2 separate regions of the Homo sapiens genome follow, and region 1 is linked to region 2. The links come from fine-mapping of genetic effects on plasma protein levels. A gene starts in region 2. The other region holds a variant in brackets. All regions are shown on one strand. Distances are between the middles of the regions.

Evidence for each region. A credible set is the group of variants that fine-mapping cannot tell apart. PIP is the chance, under the fine-mapping model, that this variant and not a neighbour inherited with it causes the effect. Protein levels are from antibody-based Olink assays in UK Biobank. Linkage for the fine-mapping came from a reference panel and not from the study's own genotypes, which makes the PIPs less certain.
Region 1: its variant is the best candidate, but not a certain one, in a credible set for the plasma level of the CRYBB1 protein (UK Biobank, PIP 0.73).

The regions. Positions count from the first base shown.
Region 1 is chr22:26,626,441-26,641,173 of GRCh38, forward strand. It overlaps CRYBA4 (crystallin beta A4), which reads left to right. Exons shown (of 6, transcript NM_001886.3): 5 at 1,848-1,990; 6 at 3,900-4,229. The coding sequence ends at 4,047. Among named protein-coding and RNA genes, the nearest start is that of CRYBA4, 12 kb to the left of the region's middle. RefSeq lists a cis regulatory region at 6,036-6,786. The variant G/A (reference allele first, on the strand shown) is at 6,912.
Region 2 is chr22:26,612,709-26,624,830 of GRCh38, forward strand. CRYBB1 (crystallin beta B1) reads right to left here and starts at 5,319. Exons shown (of 6, transcript NM_001887.4): 1 at 5,269-5,319; 2 at 3,432-3,630. The coding sequence starts at 3,611. It overlaps CRYBA4 (crystallin beta A4), which reads left to right and starts at 9,255. Exons shown (of 6, transcript NM_001886.3): 1 at 9,255-9,278; 2 at 9,877-9,927; 3 at 10,526-10,644. The coding sequence starts at 9,889. RefSeq lists enhancers at 984-1,662, 4,373-5,050, 5,729-6,404.

The DNA of each region.
Region 1 (14,733 bases), 15 kb after region 2:
AAACACAAAAACAACAAAGTGTGTTTTATTTTTCAATTCTTATTGATTTAAAATGACATAAGTCACCATATTTACCATCCAAAATTCTGAAGGAAAATCCTGCTATGGTCAGGGTTGAGTATCCCTTACCTGAAATGCTTGGGACCAGAAGTGTTTTGGATTTTGAATATTTTCCCCAGATTTTGCAATATTTGTAATACTTACAGTTGAGCAGCCTGAATCCAAAAATCCAAAATCTGAAATACTGCAGTGAGCATTCTTTGAGTGTCATGTCGTCACTCAAAAAGTTTTAGATTTTGGAGCATTTTGGATTTCGGATTTTTAGGTTAGGGATGTTCAACCTATACATTTGTGTCTCTATGTATATACACATCCAAATCAACATCTACATCTATATCTGTATAATCTATATATCTTATCTATATTGCACACATAATTTTGTCATAAAATTGGAATCATAATGAATCTAAGGCTTGGAAACTAGCTTTTCTCACTGAGCAAATGTGTCGCAATCATCAGTCCAGGTGATTAAATCTCACTTCCATCGTTTTTCATAGCTCCCTAGTATTCTGTTTTGTGAATAAGTCCATTTGTTCATTTATTCTGCAAACAGTCTAGATATTGTGCTAATATAGGGACCCGTGGCGGGCTGCAACAGAAACAATCCCTCATTCCCAGCAGTTTGCAACTCCTGATTTCATTTAGTCCTCAAAAGAACCCTGAAAAATGGGTAGGGTTAGTTTCATTTTATAGATACAGGAACAGAGGCTCAGAAATCCTGTCTAACCTCAGTCAGTTGGTAAGTGGCAGCTGCCTCCTAGCAGGAAGGATTTGAGATGATATCTCTACACCTCCTTTCTTTCCTTCTTTTTTCTTTTCTTTTCTTTTCCTTTCCCCTCCCTCCCTCCCTCCCTCCCTCCTTTCTTTCTTTCTTTCTTTCTTTCTTTCTTTCTTTCTTTCTTTCTTTCTTTCTTTCTTTCTTTCTTTTTCTTTCTTTCTTTCTTTCCTTCTTTCTTTTTCTTTCTTTCTTTCTTTCTCTTTCTTTCCTTTTCTTTCTTTCTTTCTTTCTTTCTTTCTTTCTTTCTCTTTCTTTCCTTTTCTTTCTTTCTTTCCTTCTTTCATTCTCTGTCTTTCTTTTTCTTTCTTTTTCTCTTTCTTTCTTTCTCTTTCTCTCTCTCTCCTTCCTTCCTTCCTTCTCTCTCTCTCTTTCTTTCTTTCTTTCTTTTGATGGAGTTTTTGCTTTTGTTGTCCAGGCTGGAGTGCAATGCCACAATCTCGGCTCACTGCAACCTCTGCCTCCCAGGTTCAAGCGATTCTCCTGCCTCAGTCTCCCAAGTAGCTGAGATTACAGGCATGTGCCACCACGCTTGGCTAATTTTTTGTATTTAGTAGAGACAGGGTTTCACCATGTTCGTCGGGCTGGTCTTGAACTCCTGACCTCAGGTGATCCACCCTCCTCGGCCTCCCAAAATGCTGGGATTATAGGCGTGAGCCACCGCGCCGGGCCTCTACACCCTTTTTCTTAACCACAGTGTAATGCCTCAGCTTACCACTGGATCCCCAATTTTGGACATAAAAGTTGACTCCTTTTTTTGTTTGTTTGTTTTTGAAAAAACTGTTATGATGAACATTCTTGCAGCCTATTTATTCCATGATTATTTTCTTTGTGGAAATTTCTGGAAGGGCAAATGGCAAGGTTTCTGGTACCTGTTGCCTTATTGCCCTTCCAAAAGGTTTGCAAGGAAGGCTGATTTGGGAGACAAGGGCAGGGAGTGTGGAGGCCAGGAGAGGCTCCTGGGTTTCCAACTGGGAGCCTGCTGGTCTGACTGTGTTCCCTGTTCCTGTAGAACCACCGTGACTCGAGGCTGACAATCTTCGAGCAAGAGAACTTCCTGGGCAAGAAAGGAGAGCTGAGCGATGACTATCCTTCCCTCCAGGCCATGGGATGGGAAGGCAATGAAGTAGGGTCCTTCCACGTCCACTCTGGGGCGTAAGTGTATTCAAGGCTCTACCTGGCAGGGGAGGGGCTACTGGGAGGGGTAGGTGTACCTCCTGTGAAAACTGTGTGCTGGGGACTTTTGTGCTCTGATGCCCACATTCCAGAGGAGAACACTGAGGCACAGGGAGGTATCAGGCAGAATTTGAGGGACTGAAACCCAGATCAAACTGGTTTGAGCCCAGAAGATATTTATCAGCCCCTGTAATTAGCTTCAAGCATAGCTGGATCCAGGTACTACAGCAGGTATCTCTCTCCCCCCACAACCCCCAACCTGTTGCCCTGCCTGCCTCTGTGTGACTATATTCTTAGACAAGCTCTTCCTGTGTGAAGGCAAAGGTGGCGGCTTCATCGTTACATCCAGCCCTAGGGAAAGACAGTGTCCAGGCTCAGTGATTCTATTAAAGGTTCCAAGAAAGGTGCTCATTGGTCCAGCTGGGTCCTGTGCTCAACTCTGAACCAATCATCATGCCCATAGGAATGGGGTGTTCTGATTGGCTAGGTTTGGTCATGTGGTCCATTGCTAGATTCAGCCTCATTTTCTCACCTTGGCTGAGAGTGAGAGGCCACAGGCTCTTTGGCTAGAAGAGGGGAGAATGAATGCCCCTAGCCATAAAACACAGGTGTGGCTCCAGCAACCTGCTCAAAGTCCATCAGCAGGTAGGTAACAATCCAGCTTCAAACTCAGCACTGACTGGCCCTTTCCTTTCCACCCAGGAGGTGGCAGGTGAAGGCTAAGGTGTGAGATTCTTATTTAGGGAGGACATCAGAACCACTTTCTGAGGTGCCCCTTGGCTCCTGGTAGGCAGGGGGCAAAGATGGGAGGTAGGGTTTTTCATCTTTTTTTTTTTTCTTTTTTTGGCTTTAGTTTTCTCAGGAACCACCAAAGAATCATGTTGTTTTAGAGTAAGAGGGACCCCTTGTGATTCTTGAGTTCACTTCCTCTTTTACAGAAAGGGAAATGGAGGCTTGGAAAACCAGACACCAATCCTTGTCCTGAACAGAGTAGAAATCAATGAGTTGGGCCAGACACGGTGGCTCACGCCTGTAATCCCAGCCCTTTGGGAGGCTGAGGTGGGCGGATCACCTGAGGTCAGGAGTTCGAGACCAGCCTGGCCAACATGGTGAAAGCCCGTCTCTACTAAAAATACAAAAAATTAGCTGGGTGTCGTGGCTATGCCTCTAGTCCCAGCCACTCGGATGAGGCAGAATTACTTGAACCCAGGAGGCAGAGGTTGCAGTGAGCCGAGGTCATGCCACGGCACTCCAGTCTGGGCAACAGAGTGAGACTCTGTCTCAAAAAAAAAAAAAAAAAAAAAATCAATGAATTGAAATGATAGCTTTTTTTCTTGGAAGTGCCTCTGGATAAGGAAGGAGGGAGAAAGGGGAAAGAACAAGACTTCCCATTCCTTCACTTGTTCACTTATTCAGCAAATATTTAGGAACCCCTTCTTCCTTGCTAGACTTTTATATATTTATGCAGGTGGTGATAACGATGAACAAAACATACACGTTCCTACACTCAGGAGCTTGCCTGCTGGCAGGGGAGGCTGATATTTTACAAATAATTTGAAAACTATCGAATTACATGAGTGCTACAAAGGTATAATAAGGGACTGTGGCCTGATTTGGGGAACGAGTCAGATTGCCCTCATAATTAAGATGAGCCATGAAGGACAAATACAACTTGTCTAGGAAAAGAAAGGCTGGGATGGTGCTTCTGGCAAAGGGAATGGCATGATCAAAGGCCCTGTGGTAGGGGAGAGAGCATGGCACATTGTGAGCACTGAAGAAAGGCCAGGATGGCTGGAATTGTGTGCGTGTGCATAGATCCCTTTGCCCCTGTGTTGATCACCATGCTGGTGTCTCTGTAGAGTAACTGTCTGCCTTTTCTCTTTTCCAGCTGGGTTTGCTCCCAGTTTCCGGGCTACCGAGGATTTCAGTATGTGCTGGAATGCGATCACCATTCCGGTGACTACAAACATTTCCGGGAGTGGGGCTCTCATGCCCCGACCTTCCAGGTGCAGAGCATCCGCAGGATCCAGCAGTGAACAGGGGTGCGGCACGGAGGAGCGCATGCGTGCTTATCTGCAATGGAGGCGCTCTGGAGGCTGTGGTGTGTTCTCTCCTTCTGCCTCCCCCTGTAACCTGTGTGAACCCAGCACCCATGTGAACTGGTCCGTGCACAGTCAGCACAAAAAACTCAAACGAATAAAAAAGAGAAAGTCTGGTATTAGTTGTGCTTTTCAATTTTATTAATCTTTTCAAAGAACCGGTTTTTAGCCTTGTTTTCTCTATCATTATTCCACTGATTTTTACTCTTAACTTCAGTATTTCCTTTCTTCTATTTACTTCAGGCCTACTTTGTTCTTAGTTTTTCTAGCTTTTTTTTAAGGCAGACTTCTGGGTCATTAATTTTAGGCCTCTCTTTCCCCCACCCAGTACGGTCATTTAGCTATAAATTTCCCTCCAAGTATGGCTTTAGCTGCTTCCCACAAATATTAATTTGATGTGTTTTCATTGTCATTCAGTTTGATATTTTCTAGTTTCACTTGTGGTTTTTTTTTTTTCTTTTGACCTATGGGCTATTTAAAGGGATGTTATTTAAATTCCAAATACTTTAGGATTTTCTAGGTGTTTATTGTTATTGGTGTGTTTTTAAAGACCAATGTGGTCGGAGAACATATTCCTTAAGATTTAAGTCTTCTGCAATGAATTAAGACTTATTTTATGGCCCAGCACATGGTTTTTGTATTTTAATTTTATTTTTTGTTTGTTTGTTTGTTTTGTTTTTAATGAGTCAAGGTTTCACTCGTCACCCAGGCTGGAGTGCAGTGGTGCAATCTTGTCTCACTGCAGCCTCGACCTCCCAGGTTCAAGCAATTCTGCCTTAGCCCCACAAGCAGCTGAGATTACAGGTGTGTGCCACCACACCTGGTAATTTTTGTATTTGGTAGTGACAGCGTTCGCCATGTTGCCCAAGCTTGTCTTGAACTCCTGAGCTCAGGACATCTGCCTGCCTCAGCCTACCAAAGTGCCAGGATTACAGGCCTGAGCCACTGCTCCTGGCCACATGGTCTATCTTTGAAAGGCTTGGTAGTACACTTGAAAACTATTTATATTCTGCAGTTATTGGGTACAGTGTTCTGTAAATGTCAGATCAAATTTGTTAACAGTGTTGATGCGATTTTTCTATACCCTTGCTGATTTTTTTTTTTTTTTTTGAGACAGGATCTCATTCTGTCACCCAGGCAGGAGTATAATGGCACAATCATAGTTCACCGCAGCTTGTTTTTAAAAAATCAATTTTAGTGAATTACATAGAAAGAATCATTGATTATTTGGATTTATCTGTTTCTTACCTTAGTTTTGTCTATTTTTGCTTCCTGATTTTTTTTTTCCTTCAGGAATTGTGATGCTCTGTTGTTAGGTGTACATATATTTATGATTGCTATGTCTTCTTGATAAATTGTTCCTAGCTTGTGGTTTTCAAAGCCACGCATGGAGAGTCAGTTCTCTCCCCTAGCAAAACTTCTTTTCACGCGCGTCCGTGTGAAGAGACCACCAAACAGGCTTTGTGTGAGCAATATGGCTGTTTATTTCACCTGGGTGCAGGCGGGCTGAGTCCAAAAAGAGAGTCAGCGAAGGGAGATAGGGGTGGGGCCATTTTATAGGATTTGGGAAGGTAATGGAAAATTACAGTCAAAGGGGGTTGTTCTCTGGTGGGCAGGGGTGGATCTCACAAAGTACTTTCTCAAGGGTGGGGAGAATTACAAAGAACCTTCTTAAGGGTGGGGGAGACTACAAAGTACCTTCTTAAGGGTGGGGGAGATTACAAAGTACATTGATCAGTTAGGGTGGGGCAGGAACAAATCACAATGGTGGAATGTCATCAGTTAAGGCTGTTTTTACTTCTTTTGTGGATCTTCAGTTACTTCAGGCCATCTGGATGTATACGTGCAAGTCACAGGGGATGCGATGGCTTGGGCTCAGAGGCCTGACACTTCTCATACCTTTTTTCTCTCTTCCCAATTCTCTCTCTCACACACACTACCCTGGAGTTTCTCATTTAACACCCTCCATGCTCCAAAGAAAGCCTATAAAACAAAGAAACCCCTGTTTCACTTGAAGACTAAGTGGCAGGATTGGTCTCTTCTATCTCTCTTTTTCTCCTCCCCTCCTTACTTTCTCCTGGTTCTGCATTTTATAGGTTGTCTAAACCTCTCTCATGAGCCCTCTAGCTCTTGTTTCAGGCTCTCTTGGCCCATCTTCCTCTGCCCACAAATGTCCCTGATCAGTCTGATAGGGACAGGAAGGGGTGGGGACCAGAACATTCTGCTGGAAAAGATAACATTATCTGGCTCAGGAAGGGGAGGGGAATGTTTAGGAACATTTGCGCCTCAGTAAATTTTAACTCCTCATTGTATCGTACCATTTATTCAACAGATCATTTGCCTGGGACATACAATGGTAAACATGACACCTAAAGTTTTTTCTCTCACTCAGTTTAATGGGGAATGAATGCGGAAAAGTACAGAGCTGTTTGCAAATATTCTATGATAGGGGCTGTGGGGGCGGGAAGCATGGGGTTGGGGGGCGGACCCTTCTTGTGCCTACCTCTACTCAGACCGTCCCAGAACATCTGACCACTGCTTGACACCTTGATGTGAACGTCTAATACACATCTCAAACAAAACCGGACCAAACATAACTGAAGCTACACTTTTCAAGTTGTTCAGGCTAAATGTCTGGAATGATCCATAACCCTTCTCTTTCTCTCACACCTCACATTCTAATCCATTGGCAATTCCTACTAGCTCTACTCTTTTTTTTTTTTTTTAGATGGCATCTTGCTTTGTCCCCAGGCTGGAGTGCAGTGGCGCGATCTCAGCTCACTGCAACCTCTGCCTCCCAG[G/A]TTCAAGTGATTCTCCTGCCTCAGCCCCCCAAGTAGCTAGGATTACAGGCATGTGCATCACACCCAGCTAATTTTTGCGTTTTTTGTAGAGACAGGGTTTCACCATGTTGACCAGGCTGGTCTCGAACTCCTGACCTCAAGTGATTTGCCTGCCTCGGCCTCCCAAAGTGCTGAGATTATAGGCATGAGCCACGGCACCCAGCCACTAGCTCTACTCTTAATATGTATTAGAATCCAACCCACTCATCATGCCCACTGCTGCCATTCTGGTCCCAGCCACCCTCTTCTCTCTCCTTCTCATAGTCCCTCTGCTTTTGTCTTTGCCCATGAGTGATCTGCTCTCTGCCCAGCATTCAGAGTGGTCCTGCTAGAAACGTAAGGCAGATCTTGTCACACTCCTGCTTAAAATCCTCCCATGCTCCCCACCATGCCAAGAAAACAACAATAAAAAAACCCAGTATTATTCCCAGTCCTGTGAAGCTTGTCATCATCTGCATCTCCCCACTCTCCCCACAACCTATTTTGATCTCATGTCCCTGTATTGGTTGTTCTTTAAAGATGCCAGGTGGCTAACATCTGTAATCCCAACATTTTGGGAGGCCAAGGTGGTAGGATCCTTTGAGCCCAGGAGTTCAAGACCAGCCTGGGCAACATACTGAGATCCCATCTCTACATAAAAAATTTTAAAAAGTTAGCCAGGTCTGGTGGCGTGCACCTGTGGCCCTAGCTACTTGGGAGGCTGAGGTGGGAGGATCACTTAAGCCTGGGAGGTTGAGGCTGAAGTGAGCCGTGATCGTGCCACTGCATTCCAGCCTGGGCGAGGAGAGACACTGTATCAAAAAAAAAAAAAAAAAAAAAGCACCCCGAAAGAACAACAACAACAAAAAGTCAGGTGCCGTGGCTCATGCTTGTAATCCCAGCACTTTGGGAGGCTGAGGTGGGAGAATCACTTGAGCCCAGGAGTTTGAGACCAGCCTGGGCAACATAGCAAGACCCTGTCTCTGTATTTAAAAAAACAAAGAAGAAGAAGAAGAGGGCAAGTGTATGAGTCTGCTCCAGTTGCTATAACACAATACCACAGCCTGGGTGACTTAAACCACAGAAATATTTCTCATAGTTCTTGAGACTGGATCCCAAGATAGAGGTGTCGGCAAGGCTGGTTTTTCCTGAGACCTCTCTCCATGGCTAGTAGATGGCCCCTTTCTCCCTGCATCTTCTTTTATTATTATTATTGTTATTATTATTATTATTATTATTATTATTAAGACAGAGTCTCACTCTGTTGCCCAGGCTGGAGTGCAGTGGTGAGATCTTGGCTCGCTGCAGTCTCCGCCTCCCAGGTTCAAGAGTTTCTCCTGCTTCAGCCTCTCGAGTAGCTAGAATTACAGGCGTGTGCCACCATGCCTGGCTAATTTTTGTGTTTTTAGTAGAGACAGGGTTTTGCCATGTTGGCCAGGCTGATCTTGAACTCCTGACTTCAGGTGATCTGCCTGCCTTCGCCTCCCAAAGTGCTGGGATTACAGTTGTGAGCCACCTTGCCCAGCCTCTTCCTGAATCTTCACATGGTCTTGTCGCTATGCACATGCATCCCAGCTGCCTCTTCCTCCAACAGGACACCAGTCCTGTTGGATTAGGGCCCCGCCCTAATGGTCTCATTTAAACTTCATCACCTCTTTCAACACTTTACCTTCAAATACAGTCACATTCCGAGGTACTGGGGGTTTGGGACTTCAACATATGAATTTTAGGGGGACATAGTTCGGTCAAACACTCTCCCATCTGAGCTATTTCAGCTGCTAGAGGGGCACACAGTCCAGCCCATAACCCAGGCTCATTCCCATCTGAGGTTTTCAGCTTGTGCTGTTCCCTCTTCCTAGAACACTCTTCCCTCTGCTATTTCCCATCAACACTCTCCCGTAGAGCCAGATTCATAGACTGTCAGACCTTCTAGATCTGGATCTAGAACAAGGACGCTTCTAGATCATCAAGTCTAGCATTTCCCAACATTTTGTCTTTCCTTGTCATCCCCCTAGAGAGTCTTTTTAGATGTTATTTTCCTACACCTCCCCCCATGAAGTTTTGTTTTTAGAGATGGGGTCTCATCATTTTGCCCAGGCTGGTCTTGAACTCCTGGGCTCAAGTGATCTTCCCACCCTGGCTTCCCAAAGTGCTGGGATTACAGGTGTGAGCCACCACACCTGACCCCACCCCATGAAGTTTTAATATCACAAATATAAAGTATGTAATATACGTCTGTACAAACTCTGTATATATATCTGTGTTTTATACATAAAGAGTAAGATGGTTTTTTTGCTTCCCAAGATCAATTTTCACCTCTTGGGGGTCCTACTGAAGTACTGGGGGTTGGGGCTTCAACAACATTCTTAACAATATTGAGAATGCATAATTTTATCTCATCGTGTGTGTGTGTGTGTGTGTGTGTGTGAGAGACAGCATCTCACTCTGTCACCCAGGCTGGAGTGCAGTGGCACAATCTCGGCTCACTGCAACCTCTGCCTCCCGGGCTCCAGCAGTCCTCCCACCTCAGCCTCCCAAGCAGCTGGGACTAAACTATAGGCCTATGACACCATGCCCAGGTTTTTTGTTTTTTGCAGAGACTGGGTTTTGCCATGTTGCCCAGGCTGGTCTCGCACACCTTGGCTCAAGCAATCCGCCTGCTTCACCCTCCCAAATTGTTAGGATTACAGGCATGAGCCACCACACCTGGCCTTCATCCCTTTTTAACACGTAGGGAAATGGAAACCCAGGGAAGTGTGGGGACTTGATCAAGGCCATACAGCAAGTTAAAGGCAAAGCCAGGATTCAGACACAGACTTGTTCATTCATTCGTTCATTCATTCATTAAACATGTATCAAATGTCTGCTATGTACCAAACACTGTTACAGGTTCCAGGATCTAACAGGGAACAAAGATAAAATCCCTTGCCTTGGGGAATTTATATAATTGTCCAGGGATACAGATATTTCCCCTATACCTCCATGGCTGCTCAGTCAGGATTTTTCAGACTGTTACACAGATGTTGTAACATTGTTCTTTGAAAAAAAAAATCATGTGCTTTAGTTTTGGGTATTGTTGGTGTCCACACTGCAGGACTTCTCAGTGCCTACAATAGTTTAACATGTATTGTGAATCTCTGGAAGGGAGAATAGAATATTCAGAGTTTTCCAAATTTATTTGACCACAGAACAATTATGAACTTGTTCTTTCCCTTCTGTGGAGCACCTTGCATTATGAGTGGCCTGTGGAACATAAGGTAGGAAATGCTAGAGTTAGCTAGGATAGCCACTCACAGCCTAGTATGAATTAGTTTCCAAACGAGCTTTATGAAATGGACTGTGGAAGTTGTAAGTGTTGCTGTAGGGGCAGGGGTACTGTCCAGGAAGGGGTTCCATGGTCAGTCCTAGGGAAATGGGATTAGGAAGACATAGGGGTGAGGACAATTTAGAGAGGCCCATGAAGTCAATCTCTGTGGACTCTGAGGCCCAGAATGAGGGCTGGGCCTGGCTACCATCTTCCAGCTAGAAGTTTCCTCACTCAGAGCCCCTGAGGCCCTAGAAGGCACTGGATGTAGAGGGCTCTGCTGCACCTACCACAGAGAGGCCACTGTTTGACTTTGACAGGAAGACTGAGTTGGCACCAGCCTCCAGAAGAGGCCATCATGGGTTTGGGTTTGCATCCTGGGTTTACCAGCATGTAACCCCAGTTTCCTCATCTTTTAATGGAGAAATTCTCATCTCCTTGCTTGCAAAAAGTTAAATGATATATTATATATATGCCTGTGCCCAGGGTACACACAAAGAACTTGGTAAGCTCTCAGTAAAGGTTGATGGAAATTGTTAGTATCATTCTTAATATTGTTATTAGTATTATTATACATTTCTCGGTCCCTTTGCTTTGACCTCCTCCCTTATCTCCACCCAAAACCCTTTACCCAAGCATACCTTTCTCAGAATAATGATGATAATAATATCGATGATACATATTGTGTTTATCCCTTTCACATGTGATATAATTTAAACCTCACAGGGCCGGGCCTGGTGGCTCACGCCTGTAATCCCAGCACTTTGGGAGGCCGACGCGGGTGGATCACGAGGTCAGGAGATCGAGACCATCCTGGCTAACACGGTGAAACCCCGTCTCTACTAAAAATACAAAAAAATTAGCCGGGTGTGGTGGCGGGCACCTGTAGTCCCAGCTACTCGGGAGGCTGAGGCAGGAGAATGGCATGAAGCCTGGAGGTGGAGCTTGCAATGAGCCGAGATTGCACCACTGCACTCCAGCCTGGGGGACAGAGCGAGACTCCATCTCAAAAAAAACCAAAAAACAAAAAAACAAAAAAACCTCACAGTAACTTCTTTATGCAATTATTGTCTATTTAAAGCAGAGACGTGAGGCTCAGAGGCTCTGAGAGTTCAAGCAACTTGCCTGAGACCACCCAGCCTGCAGGACCATTGAGCCCACCGTAGGTTGTGCAAGGTTTTGGGGGGTGGATGAAAGAGATAATGGGCACAAATAAAATGTATAAACAATAAGTTGCTGGGTTCATGTCCTCCCTTTAAAGAGTTAAACAAGGGGCTGGGTGTGGTGGCTCGTGCCTGTAATCCCAGCACTTTGGGAGGCCGAGGCAGGCGGAACACGAGGTCAGGAGTTTGAGATCAGCCTGATCAACATGGTGAAACCCCGACTCTACTAAAAATACGAAAATTAGCCAGGTGTGGTGGTGTGTACCTGTAATCCCAGCTCCTCGGGAGGCTAAGGCAGGAGAATCGCTTGAACCTGGGAGGCAGAGGTTACAGTGAGCCGAGATGGTGCCACTACACTCCAGCCTGGGTGACAGAGCAAGGCTCCATCTCAGGAGAAAAAAAAAAAAAAGCCCTTCACACTTTAGTATTAACAACTATAGAGTTTCTTATAGGAAAGCCTCAGGTCCTTGGGCAAAGCGGGCCATACTTGCTGCAGGAAGGAAGGAAGGAAGGAGTGGAGGAAGGAGGGAGGGAAAAAGGGAGGAAGGAATGAGGGAGGAAAGGAAGGGAGGGAGAGAGAGAGGAAGGAGGGAAAGAAGGAAGGAAGGAAGGAAATTGAAATTTGGTGGTGATCATTTTAGGAGCCACCCCAGTTAGAGCCAGGAGTAAGGCTGGCAACCATAAAAAATGGGAGCCCAAATGTGAGCTGATGCTAGAGCAACAGACAATAAAGAGACAATTTGTCAGGGGCGATCTTGAGAGGGGAGATAACAGAGCATGAAATTATTTTTCATGTCTTGCCAGGGGACCAATTTTCTTAGGTTATGAAAGAAAGAGAGCTTAAATTATTGATGCTATTTGGTCAGAAGTGAGTGGTAGGCATGGAACACCCATCACCTGGAACAATGCACACAGCCGACAGGACTGAACACAGGGTCCAGGGCTGTGGATCCCAAACCAGCAACCTCTTTGCCCAGAGAGGGAAGGGGACTTGTTCAAGACCACACAGTAGGCACTATCCATGTTGCTCCTTGCAGCCTGTTCCCTAGGTGCTCACACCTGTGAGTAGGTGATACAGCACAGAAGAAAAGACACCGGGTGTTGCACACACCTGGGTGTGAATCCTGGATCCTGTGTTTACCAGGTAAGGTGATCTTCAGTGAGCTGCTTTGCCCCACTGAGCCTCAGTTTCCTCGCCTCTTAAAGAGGAAGGCTGTTATGAGGGTTCGAGGAGTTGATACCTGGAAAAATGCTTTGAAAATAATCCACAATGTGAGCCTTCTCTTTTTTTCTTTTTTGAGACTGGGTCTTGCTCTGTCACAAAGACTGGAGTGCAGGAGCAATCACAGCTCACTGCAGCCTCTACCTCCTCGGCTCAAGTGATCCTCCCACCTCAGCCCCCTGAGTAGCTGGGCCATGCCTGGGTAATTTTTAAACTCTTTTTGTAGAGATAGGTCTCACTATATTTCCCAGGCTGATCTCAAACTCTCGGGCTCAAGTGATCTGCCCATTCTGGCTTCCAAAAGTGCTGGGATTACAGGCTTGAGCCACCGTGCCCGCCTCTCTTTCTTTCTTTAAAAAAAAAAAAAGATTTATTTTAAAAATTGTATTTTTTTTTTTTTAAACTTAGTTTTGCTCTTGTTGCCCGGGCTGGAGTGCAATGGCGTGATCAATCATAAGTCACTGCAACCTCTGCCTCCCGGGTTCAAACGATTCTCCTGCCTCAGCCTCCCGAGTAGCTAGCATTACAGGCATGTGCCACCACACCCAACTAATTTTGTATTTTTAGTAGAGATGAGGTTTCACCATGTTGGTCAGGCTGGTCTTGAACTTCAGACCTCAGGTGATCCGCCCGCCTCGGCCCCCCAAAGTGCTGGGATTACAGGCGTGAGCCACCGCACCTGGCCAAAAAATTGTATTTTTAATTGACATATAACAATTATATACATACATAGGGTACAATGTGATGTTTTGATATGTGTTTACAATGTGGAATGATTAAACTGGGCTAATTAACAAATTCATCACCTCACATACTTATTTTTTTGTGATGAACACATTTAAAATCTACGCTTAGCAATTTTGAAATATACAATGCACTAGTATTTATTATAGTCACCATGCTGTGCAACAGATCACTAGAGTTTATTTCTCCTGTTTAACTGAAACTTTGCACCCTCTGATCGATGTCTCCCCTTTCTCCCCTTTCCCCCTCCACCCCCTCCTCCAGCTTCTGGTAACCACCGTTCCACTCTCTACTTTGATGAGTTCAACTTCTTTAGATTCCACATATGAGTGAGATCATACGGTATTTGTCTTCTGTGCCTGCCTTATTTCACTTAGCATAATGTCCTCCAGGTTTATCCATGCTGTCACCAATGGCAGGATTAACCTCCTTTTTCTTTCTTCCTTTTTTTTTTTGAGATGGACTCTCTCTCTGTTGCCCAGGCTGGAGTGCAGTGGCTTGATCCCGGCTCACTGCAACCGCCACCACCTGGGTTCAAGCGATTCTCCTGCCTCAGCCTCCCGCGTAGCTGGGATTACAGACACTTGCCACCACGCCTGGCTAATTTTTGTATTTTTAGTAGAGACAGGGCTTTGTTACATTGGGCAGGCTGGTCTTGAACTCCTGACCTCAGGTGACCTGCCCACCTTGGCTTCCCAATAACCTCCTTTTTTAGCCATTGTGCATATAGACACCACATTTAAAAAATCCATTCATCTGTTGATGGACAGATGAATGGACTGTAGATTGATTCCTGTCTTGGCTATTGTGAATAGTGCTGCAATGAACATGGGGGTGCAGGCATCTCGTCAGCATACTGACTTCAATTCCTTTGGATAGATATCCAGCAGTGGGATTGCTGGATCATATGGCAATTCTATTTTTAGTTTTCTGAGGAACCTCCATCCTGTTCTCCATAACGGCTGCACTAATTTACATTCCCACCAACAGCACATAAGGGTTCCGTTTTCCTACATCCTGGCCCTCACTTCTCTTTTGTCTTTTTGATACTGGCCATTCTAACAGGTGGGAGGAGATATCCCATGGTGGCTTTAGTTTGCATTTTCCTGATGATTCATAATGCCGAGCATGTTTTCATATATATGTTGACCATTTGTATGGCTTCTTTTGAGAAGTGTCTATTTAAGTCCTTTGCCCGAAAAAAAAAAATCTCCCACTAAAGAAAAGACCAGGACCACATGGCTTCACGGTGAAATTCCATCAAACATTTAAAGAAAAACCAATACTTATCCTTCCCAAACTCTTCCAAAATAAAGAAGAAGGAATACTTCCAAGCATATTTTACAGCATTATCCTGAATGCAAAGCCAGA
Region 2 (12,122 bases):
CCTTTCAGGCCTTTCTTTGTGCTATTCCTCCTGCCTGGAATGCCTTCTCCACCACACATATCCAGCTTGGAGCTCCCACTGCCTAACTGAAGTTCCCTAATACGCATTCCAGCTCGTTATTCTGTTTTAGGCTCAGGTGCCACCTTCTCCAGGAAGCCTTCTCTGATTGCCCCTTCCTCCATCGGCCTTGGTTGAGCATCCCCCACTGTCCTCTCCCCATTAGCAGCACAACTAACCCACCACACAGTCACTGCTGTTTTGCTTTGGGGTCTCCCTCTCTCTCTGCACTCCCTCTCTCCCATTACCCAGCCCCTCCAAAGACCAAGGACTCCTCCAGGGCAGGGCCTGAGGTTGATCAATTTCTGTATCTCCAGCCCCAGCCCCAGTACCTGCCACAGAGCTGATGCTCAGGAGACACTTGCAAATCCAACCCTCCACAACATAGGGGAAAACTTGAGCTAATCTTCTCTCCTCACTAAGCCTCATGTTTGGTTCCTTGTCCACTTGCTGTTCCAAGTTGGGACAACGTTGCCATTCACATGGACCAAGGCACAATTTTCTGCCTTCTTTGAGCCTCAGTTTCCCCAGCTGTAAGAGGAGGGGAGGTTCATATAACCATGACCCAGCACTTCCACTTCTACCTTTGGTTGCCCAAGAGAAACTCCTGTATGTGTGCCCCGGGATGTTGCGGGAAGTCAGGGACCCCAAACGGAGGAACTGGCTGAAGCCATGGCAGAAGAACGTGGATTGTGAAGATTTCATGGACATTTATTAGTTCCCCAAATTAATACTTTTGTAATTTCTTATGCCTGTCTTTACTGCAATCTGTAAACATAAATTGTAAAGATTTCATGGACACTTATCACTTCCCCAATCAATACCCTTGTGCTTTCCTATGCCTGTCTTTACTTTAATCTCTTAATCCTGTCAGCTGAGGAGGATGTATGTCGCCTCAGGACCGTGTGATAATTGCATTAACTGCACAAATTGTACAGCATGTGTGTTTGAGCAATATGAAATGTGGGCACCTTAAAAAAGAACAGGATAACAGCAATTGTTCAGGGAATAAGAGAGATAACCTTAAACTCTGACCGCCAGTGAGCCGGGCAGAACAGAGCCATATTTCTCTTCTTTCAAAAGCAAATGGGAGAAATATCGCTGAATTCTTTTTCTCAGCATGGAACATCCCTGAGAAAGAGAATGCGCACCTGGGGTTAGGTCTCTAAACTGGCCCCCCTGGGCGTGGTCGTCTCTTATGGTCGACGCTGCAGAGATGAGATAGACTCCAGTCTCCCATAGCTCTCCCAGGCTTATTAGGAAGAGGAAATTCCTGCCTAATAAATTTTGGCCAGACCGGTTGATCTCAAAACCCTGTCTCCTGATAAGATGTTATCAATGACAATGGTGCCCAAAACTTCATTAGCAATTTTAATTTTGCCCCGGTCCTGTGATCCTGTGATCTCTCCCTGCCTCCACTTGCCCTGTGATATTCTATTACCTTGTAAAGTACTTGATGTCTGTGACCCACACCTATTCTCACACTCCCTCCCCTTTTGAAACTCCCTAATAAAAACTTGCTGGTTTTTGCAGCTTGTGGGGCATCACGGAACCTACTGACATGTGATGTCTCCCCCGGACGCCCAGCTTTACAATTTTTCTCTTTTGTACTCTGTCCCTTTATTTCTCAAGCTGGCCGACGCTTAGGAAAAATAGAAAAGAATCTATGTGAATATCGGGGCAGGTTCCCCGATACCAGGAGACAGGGATAAGAACGTCCAAGCCATGCTGTTCACGAGAGCAAAGCTAGCAACCACTGAAATCGTGCTTAGCAGGAAAGAGATGGTCACGCTCTGAAATATCAGGCAGCAGCCAGAATGAATGGCCGGCAGTCATGCGCAACAATATGGATGGATATTAGGGATCTCATAGTAAGTGAAAAGTACAAAGAAAAGCCCAGAATAATCACATTGCATATTTCAATAAATTAAAAACAAGTAAATCGGCCAGTTGCGGTGGCTCACACCTATAATTCCAGCACTTGGGGAGGCGGAGGCTAGGAGTTCGAGACCAGCCTGGATAATATGGCAAAACCCGTCTCATAATTCGGTCTCAAAATAAATGAATAAATAAAACAAGTAAATAAATATACATGTGTATGTGTGTATACATTTTTAAAGGAATAATGCATAAAATTGTATACAAAAGCAAGCAAGCAGATTACAGACACAGGTTGAGGATAGGACAGTATTTCCTGGAGTTGGGGAGGAAAATGATGGACTCAAGGGAGACACCTTAGAGTTAGGTAGAAAGTTTTTAACCAAGTCCTGGCTTTTATATGGGTGGTGGGTTTGTAGGTGCATATTGCATTATTAGAAATTAAATAAAACTAATGATTAAATAGGTACATAAATAAAAACCTGCCACGCACTGACCACATGAGAGCGTGTCATGAACTAGGGGTTGCAAAATGGCCTACTTCTGTGACCTGAGGTTGAAACCACACCAAACCAAATCCCAGGGGACTGGACACCTTGCTCCACAGGATGCCTTTCAGCCCAGACCACCTCGAGCAATTTTGAGGGTCTGAGGCCATCCTGCTGCCCCAGTGAGCCTCCAAGGACAGCTGGTTCCCTGCTGCTAAGCCAGCCCACTTCCTTTTCTTCTTTTTTTTTCTTGCTTTCGATAAACTCTAAGCATGTGCGTGTGCAGGTGTAGCCTGATTGCCAGGTGTCCCTTCAGCTGTGAAGCGGTATGGTTTGGTTGTTGTTATTGCACAACTCAACTATAGGTCCCCTTTTTCTTTCTATTCTTTTCTTTTTTTTTTTGATGGAGTCTCCCTCTGTTGCCCAGGCTGGAGTGCAGTGGCATGATCTCAGCTCACTGCAACCTCCGCCTCCTGGGTTCAAGTGATTCTCCTGCCTCAGCCTCCCAAGTAGCTGGGATTACAGGCGCCCACCACTACGCCTGGCTAATTTTTGTATTTTTAGTAGAGACAGGGTTTCACCATGTTGGCCAGGCTGGTCTCGAACTCCTGACCTCAGGTGATCCACCTGCCTCGGCCTCCCAAAGTGCTGGGATTACAGGCATGAGCCACTGCGCCCGGCCCCACTTTCTCCAAGTGTGTCAGAACCCCTGGCTATTTTATGGGCTCCCAGATTGGCTGGGCCACACTTGTGTCCCAGAAGGAGGAGGGAGGAGGAGGCCAAGGTGAGGGAAAAAGAGAATAGGGACAGAGGATAAGAGTCTGGGGAGGTGGAGAAGAAGAAAAGGGAGAGTAAATAGAAAGGAGAGAAAATAAGCCAAGAAAAAGGAGGAGAAAGAGGTGCGGAGGAGTAAGAGGTGAAAGAGGAAGAGGAGGAGGAGAAGAAGGAGGAGGAGGGAAGGAAGGAAAGAAGGCATGGCACCCAGCCACTGCACCCCCAGGTCCTTACCCTGTAGTTCCCAGGAGGCAGTTCCGCCGCCTTGGCGCTGGTAATAGGCACGGTTGTTGGGGCCAGGGTAGTGCCGGGACTAGGGGATGTTCCTGCAGGTGGGGCCCCCTTCCCCTTGGTGTCAGGCCCTGGGTTCACCGCCACTGTGGCCGAGGCCGAGGCCTTTGCAGCCTGAGACATGGTTCCCGCCTGCAAAAGTCTGTAAAGAAACTCTGGCCTTCAGGGATGACACCCCCAAACTGCCTCCTGCCCTCATAGCCCCACATCCTGTGCTTTCAGCCTCCTTGGAGCTCGTTTCCTCTCTATCTCCTTCTGAAACGGTTAAGCCTGGAAGTTTTTCTTTCATCCCTACTTCCCAGCCAAGACCTTCCCGTCTGGGGGCCACTCATCCCACATATATCCTTCCTCCAGGCTTTTGACCATGCGGTTCCCTCCACTAGCTGTTCCACCCTCCATTACCCCGCTAGGTCCTTCCTTAGCCCCCTGCAATTTTCCACACTGCTTATCACACTGATTTGCTTGTGCAACTCCAATTTGCCTCCCTAGACTAATAACAAGAAGTCCCATTTGGGAGTACTTAAGGTGTGCCAGGCACTGTGACATACATTAATTAACCCATCTGACCATGAACCTCACCCGATGGAGTAGCTGCTATCATGATCCCCTCTGAGCAGCAGGGGGCTGGAGAAGGAAGGGGCCCAGCTCAGGCCCAAACAGCTACTAAGTGGTAGGGCTCTGATTTCAACTCAAGGAAATGGAGCCAGCAACTGGGCTTTTAAAGTATTCTGCCATTTGCTTAATCTGATTTATTCACCGTCCATCCCTAACACTTGCTCTGCACCTGGCACATAGGAGATGCCCAATTAACATTTGTTCAGAGAATGAATGAATGCATGCTCCCAGCTCCTTTCCCCGTCTGCTTCCTCTGAGGGGTTGGTGTATGGGTGCAAATACAGGCCGGGGACTGAGGCTTATGGGAGGACCCAAGAGGATGTATTTACTGCATGTGGAGGGTTCTGAAAATGAGGACTGGGGCTGGGTAGGCTTTGGGTGGAGAGGGCTTTGGTCAATTCCAGTGGTTCCTTGTTGCTTTGGGGTCGTGGACTCCTTTGAATGTTTGATGAATACCTCAACTTTGTCCCCGGACAAAAATAATGCTCTCTTTAACTTTGGAGACAATGTTAAGGGATTTGAGGACCCCCTGCTAGCACAGATTAAGACCCTCTGGTCAAGCTGATTCCCGAACACATTCTGTAAGGCGGAGCTAGTTGGGATAAGCACATCCCTCCCCCAGCCTCCTCCAGGAAGGCTGTGCATATTCTGGGGTGCCCCCTGTTCACCAGGGGTGAGGCCAGACATCTGGACCACATCTGTGGCTTTAAACACTCCCCCAGGGCTGGCAGCTGGACTCATGCCTTCCTGGAGATATTCTCATTCTCTCTCTCTCCCTGCTTCACCCTCTCCCTCTGTTCCTCCTCTCTTCCCTGTCTTTGCCTCTCTATCTGTTTCTTACTTCTCTCCCTCTTTCTGCCTATCTGCCTGTCTGTTTCTCTCCCTCTCTGTTCCTCTCTCCCCCACTATCTCTCCCTCATTGTATCTTTGCTTATCTCTCTATCTGTCCTTTTTAATTATATTTACTTCTCTCTCTATTTCTGTCTTTTCTCACTCTCTCCCCTCTCCCTCTCCCTCCCTTTCTTCCTCTCTCCACTTCCGTCTTTATCTCCATGGCCCTGCTCTCTGACTCTCATGGCACTGCTATCTCTGCCTCCCTCTCTCTGTCTCCCTTTTCTCTTCCCCTCCCCTTCAGCTCTCAGCTGGGCTGTGGGTTCCCTCTTACCTGGGGACTTGCTACTTCCTGCTGGAGGACAGGCAGGCGGGCAGGTGCTATGGGTGACTAGAGTCCGACCCCCCATTTTATAGTCTGGCAGACATCAGGCCCTATAGTCTGTGGCACAAAGGGGAAGCTGGCTCAGCAGGCCTGGGCAGGGAGTGGGGGACTGGGGCCCTGACCTCGCCTGGATCACTGCAGACAGCAGCACTTTCCTTTGTGAGACCAGCACACACAGCAGAAACCCTGGCCACAGCAGCTTCACCTTCCAACCCTACCCTGACTCCTTTCTCAACAACCCCAGCCAGGGATGGGCCCCCAAAAGGGTCCCTGCTGGCTGCCAACATGGGGCAGGGAAAAGGGGAGACCCTGGGAGGCAGGAGACCAGAGTTTGAATCCTGACTCAGCCACTGCGCGCTGTGTGGCTTTTGGTAGGTCTCTACCCCTAGGGGGGCCTCTGTGTCTGCAATTATAAGGTGGGCACGTGTCCCTGTTGGATGCCATATAGAAAAGAAGGTGACAATGAGCACAGAAGCGTTTTGTAAAGGCAGATGTGGGTTTGATATGGACAGCCTTTTTTACGGAGTGCTTACTGTGTGCCGAACCCGTGTTATCTCGGTCAGTCCCCGGGACAATCTGCCTTATTTGGTACTTTCATTATGCCCATTTCACAGAAGAGGAAAGTGAAGGCACAGAGAGGTCAGAGCCAGCCCAGGCCAGCCAGCTCTGGGCCTGTGTGCTTTCTTCTCCTGCTGTCCAGCCTTGACCTTGGCCTGAGGCCCCCTGGCCTGACTTCCTCTTTGTAGGTTGGGGTGGGAATGGGAGAGTCGCACTGTGCTCAGCTGGGTTGGATATCGGAGACCTGGGTCTTTTTCTTTTCCCCACATTGGGCCCCATCCTTTCCTGACCTATCGACAGTGATCCCTCTCGCCACCCCAGTTCCCCGCCTCTACCCAGGCCACGTTATCTGACCTGGAGGACAGTGCTGGTGGCCAGAAATATGACTGCCTGTCCCAGAGCCTCCTGCCCTGGCAAGCCCCAGATGCCCACCACATCTTGTTCACCACTGGCCCCAGCACCTAGCTGGGCCTGGCTAGGTAGAGCTTGGCACATCATGGGTTCTCAGTCAATAACTGGTGACTCAATGGTGGTTCCAATGGATCGGAACAGAAGGTAGGGTACGGAGGAGATAGGGAAACCAAGGCAAGGAGAGAGAAGTAAGGAGGCAGATAGAAGTAACAGACAAAGAGAGAGGTGGAGACAGAGACACAGAGAGGCACAGGGGACATGGACAGTGAAGGAGCGAGAGACGGAGAGACAGAGGTCAAGTTGGGGTGATCAAGCCTCAGGACGGAGGAACAGACGCCAGAAATCACAGGGCCCAATCCTCCCATTTCACAAATGGAGAAACCGAGGCCCAGGTGGAACAAATGACTTCAACATAGTCACATGGCGGGAACTCACAGTACAGCTGGGGTCAGAAGGAGCCTGGGGAGCTGCTCAGCTAGGTCACCTGCAGTCGGCTCCCCAGTCCCAGGCAGGGTATATTGCGGGGGCATCTGGATAGGCTCCTGTCTCTTCTTTTTCGGGGTTCTAGGCTCCCCGTGGAGCCCAGCTCTGTCTTGAACTCTCCCTGGCCTGGAGCCAGCTTTGCCTCTGTCCCTCCACCACCCAGCACCCCCTCGCTTCCTAGCCTCTCCTTGGCCTTTCATCCTGGGCCAAGACTTGGTGGGTGGGGTGTGGGCAGGAACTGCAAGATGGGGTAGCCACTGGAACTGGGGCCAAGACGCCTGTGGTGAGGGCCCACCCACCAGTCTAGGCTTCAAAGCCAGGTCATCTGGGGCAGTTCCGTGCCCCCCCTAAAGCCCCAGGAATGGGCTGTCTGCCAGAGGGTGGGGGCAGAGAAGGGGGATGGCCCACCATGTTGGTGGCTCCACTCTGAGCATTTATTATTATTATTGTATCCTTCATTATATCTTTTTCTTTTTTGCCCTGTCTTATGGAGCCAATTTATTTTCTTTTCTTTTTTTCTTTTCTTTTTTTTTTTTTGCATTGTCCTGTACTCCTCAGTATAAGGATGAAGTCTCTGGGATTAACCCCAATTACGGATAAGGAAACTGAAGCAACTCCCTTTCCTTCCTCTCTCTCAGCCACTTTCTCATAAAAATGGAAATGTAAGATAAAATTGGAACTCACATCTTCTTTACTCATGAACCCAGGCTCTTAAAAACTATGCACCCCTGCTTTTTGATCAACAATTAATAATAATCATCTTTCTTATTAGCAATGGTGATGATGAAGATGATGGAAATACCACAATATTTTTTATGTTGCAGGAGCAATTCCAGCTGCTGTTCATGTGCTATTCACATTTATCCTCACAATCCCCCTGTTTCTTAGACTAATCCCAACTTACCTTGTTACACCCATTTTACACACAAGTAAACTGAGGCTCAGAGTGCGTAAGTAACATGCTTAAAAGTTACCCAGCCAGCACCAGTGGGATGCAAACCCAGGCAGTCTGGCTGTAGAGGGTGCATTGTTAACCTTTCATTTTCATGCCAACCCTTCATCAAAGTCATGCATTCCTTTTTTTTTTTTTTTTTTTTTTTTTTGAGACGGGGTCTTGCTCTGTCACCCAGGGTCAAGAGAAATGGCATGATCTTGGCTCACTGAAACCCCTGCCTCCAGGTTCAAGCAATTCTCCTGCCTCAGCCTCCCTAGTAGCTGGGATTACAGGCGCCCGCGCTACTCCCGGCTAATTTTTGTGTTTTTAGTAGAGACGGGGTTTCACCATGTTGGCCAGCCTGGTCTTGAACTCCTGACCTCAGGTGATCCACCCACCTCGGCCTCCCAAAGTGCTGAGATTACAGGCGTGAGCCATTGCGCCCAGCCTAAAGTCATGCGTTTGATAGAGCTGCATTTCACCCTCTTAAAAGGAAACTGGTGTGGCCACTTTACAGGTCATGAGCAGGACTCAGGTGTCCTCCAGGTCACACGGATGGTAAGAAAGAAGCAGGGCTGGATTTCATCTCAGATGATCTGGTTTCCAGTCATGCTGTTTTCCTATGCTTGTTACACCCATTTTACACACAAGTATGTATGTATGAGGGACCTCTTAGGTCCCTCATACGCCAATTCAGAGGGCAGGGTTTCGGGACAAGAGGCACACAGCAAATTGTACAAGTCCTGGATATTTGGCAAGTGTGCCACAGTTTGCAAAGCATGTTTGCAACTAACAGCTCCTCTATGCTGCCCACAGTGCCATCCGGATTCATCTTCAGGCTTTGTGGACCCAGCAGGCCCTGGCCTAGCCCTCTTCTCCTGCCTCACTTCCCTTCAGGTCCCCTGAGCTCCAGGCCAATTGGGCTACCAGCTCTTTCTTGTACATGTGCCCCAAGTTCCCACCTCTGAACTTTTTCTTAGAATGCCTCTCCTTCCATCTCACTCTGTACATATCTTCCTCATCCTTCAGAGTCTAGTTCAAATGCCTCCTCTAACGGCAAGCCTATCTGGATTGCTTCAACTGGAAGAGAAAGGGGAAAGAGAGAAGGAAAGGAATAGGCATTTCCTGAATGTTTACTCTGTACCAGGCATGTTATGTAACCTCACAACAACTCTGTGATATGGTTTGTTTCTGCCCCATTTTATAGGCAGAAATTGAGGGGAAATGACTCGCTGGAGCTCACATAGCTAGGAAGGATGCTTCTGGACTCCTCATCTAGTGCTCATTCTCCTGCTCTAGTCAGGAACCTTGTGGGGCTGATGAGGGCCAATATTCCACCTCTCTCCTTCTTCGTGGCTGATCCCTGGGGGTGGTGATCTGGTCCTTTCCCTCCCTGCTAAAGCCAGAGCTGCTGACGGCTTGCCATTGGCTCTTCAGCCAGGGCTGGCTTTTGTTTCTGTGGCCCAGTTGCTGAGTCGGGGCTTTGTCTCCCAGGGGCCCCTCTTCCCTCCCTGCCTATAAGAGCCCGACCTCGGCTGGTCTCAGATCTGACATGTTCCCTGGGCCTATCTCGGTAAGTCCCAGGTTTGGAGGAGGGGTGGGATCAGAGTTCTGAGTGAGCATTCTGGGAGGCGAGGAACCCAGGTCCCCAGTCCTAGGGATGTCACTGTGTCATCCTGAATGCCATCCTCATCCTAACCAAGGATGAGCCCCAACCATCAAGACCAGCACCTGCTTCCCTCATTTAAAAACAAATTATTCCTGTAGCCCTATTGCCTAAATTTCCACCATCAGAGCTACCTCTTTGAGCTAGGTGCTGTCTTTGGAAGGGCTCTCTTATGCTGAGCATTTCAGCACTCGCTGGGGTGATGCACCCACCCACCAGCAGCCACAAAAATTTTCCCATAACAAGCAGATAAGAGAATACAGAGTGGGGCTCAGAGTCAATGAGACCCAGCAAGGGTGAGTTTTGAGATGGGGATAGGATGGAAGATGGCATTGGTGACAGATGGAAAGGACAGGAGAGGGACAGGCCAAAGCCATGCATTGCCCCTAGCCCAGTCACTCCTGGACTCCCTATGTGGATCCTGACCAGGTCCAAGCCAGCCATCTGCATAAAGAGGAGAGCAGAGGGTCAGGGTGGAAGATTATAATGTTCTTCTCTTCTGCAGGAAGGGGCCACAATGACCCTGCAATGCACAAAGTCAGCGGGACCCTGGAAGGTAGGAAGAGGCATGGGGAGGGGGTGTTCAGGGGGTATGGGGAGGGTTCAGGTCCCCATGAATCCTAGGAGGGGGGCATTATAAATGCCTATTTCACAGAGGTGCAATCAAGGCTCAGAGTTGAGAAGGGACTTGTATGTCACATACAGGGAGGTTGAATGTGAATTTGGGTCTTCTGGTTCCCAAAGTTGACCTGTTACACTCTTTGGCAGAGGTTGCAGTCTTTGGGCATGATTTCTTTGACCATCTCTGTGTGTGTTTGTTTGTTTTATAAAGCTTTTGGATTTATCATCAGCCTTTAAAAGCCTGGAAGAACCACATAAAAGTCCAGATCTAGTGATTGTCTTGAGAAATTGGAAGGTCTGGCCTGCATTCCCACTTGGCAACCATTGGTGGCACTGGGAAGAGGCCACCCATTTACCTGGCACCTGTGCTGTCTAGTGTCTCACATTTATCACTGCTCTTGCCTTCCTGGCTCCTGGAGGAATCTGAGTTTGCAATCCCTGCTTTACCTGCCAGATCCTGGGGCGAGCCCCCAACCTCTCACCCTTCACGGGACTCTGATGCGGATCTCCACCTTTTTTTTTTCCTGGCACAGATGGTGGTGTGGGATGAGGACGGCTTCCAGGGCCGGCGGCACGAGTTCACGGCCGAGTGCCCCAGCGTGCTGGAGCTTGGCTTCGAGACTGTGCGATCTTTGAAAGTGCTGAGTGGAGCGTGAGTCTAGGGGGACACTGAGTTGGGGTAGAGGGTGGACAGGAAGGGACCTAGAGACGGGTGCTAGGACTTTTAGATATTCTAGGTCCCCTCTCCCTAGGCTCTTACTGTTGTGCCCTCCTGAAGTACTGAGGAGTGTGCAGGACTGCCATGTAAGATTATGCAGGTTGCGCACTGCCCAACAGTAGGAGGGTGCCATTTACACAGACCCTGCCCACTGGATGAGGCAGTTCTGCAGGAGATCCTTAGAATCCAGTGTTGGATCTAAAAATGTCCCTCCCAGCCGTAAATTGAAAGCCAACATCACCCGCCTAAAGTAGAAGGTAACTGTAAAAATAAACATAATGTTTTAATGCTATTAATTTTTAGCTAAATAGTCTTGCTGCTAAGCATGTGGCCTGATCATTTTTTGTAAAAAAAAAAAAAATTAAAAAACAAAAAAGAGAGTGAGAGAGAGAGATTAGTGAGACACAGAGAGGTGTTAAGGACACACTAATAACACACCAAGACTTTCTAGACCAGTGTCATTCAGTGGACCTGTCTGCAATGATGGAGATGTTCTACATCTACACCATCCATTTCAGAGCCACTGGCCAGATGTGACCATTGAGGATTTGAAAGGTAGCCAGCATGAGTAGAGAACTGAATCTTGTTTAATCTTAATTTATTTAAGTTTAAATTTAATTAGCTACATATGGCCAGTGGCTACCATATTAGATAGAAGGTTCTAGAAGGTTGGAAAGCAGGTAGAAAGGAGATGTGGCCAGTAGCTACCATATTGGATAGAAGGCTCTAGAAGTTTGGAAAGTAGTTGGAAAGATGTGGCCAGTAGCTACCATATTGGATAGAAGTTTCTAGAAGGCAGGAAAGTAAATAGAAAGGAGGTGTGGCCAGTAGCTACCATACTGGATAAAAGTTCTAGAAGTTTGGAAAGTAGATCGAAAGGAGATGTGGCCAGTAGCTTCCATATTGGATAGAAGGTTCTAGAAGGTTGGAAAGTAGCTAGAAAGGCAATGTGGCCAGTAGCTACCATATTGGATAGAAGGTTCTAGAAAGTTGGAAAGTAGATAGACAGGAGATGTGGCCAGTAGCTACCATATTGGATAGAAGGTTGTAGAAGTTTGGAAAGTAGATAGGAGATTTGGAGTCACTTAATGCTACACCTGTGAGTGCCACCTGAGGTCATCTTGGGTGATTTTTGCACATCTCATGCTTTAGTAAATACTCTTTTAGCTTCTGATTTGTGCAGGTGGGGAATGGGGGTCAGATGGGAACAGAGGCTTTCTAGGGGTATGTCCAGCAGGCTGACAGACTCAGCCAGTAAGCAGACAATGAGCTTGGATAGATTCAGACAGTTTATTACTTATACAGACAGTAAAGGCAAGGTGCAGCCTCCTGTGTCCCTTGTCCTACTGGACGACACCAAAACAAAGGGGGCTGAATGACAGGCATTAGGAATGGTAGGAACCCCGTGGCTG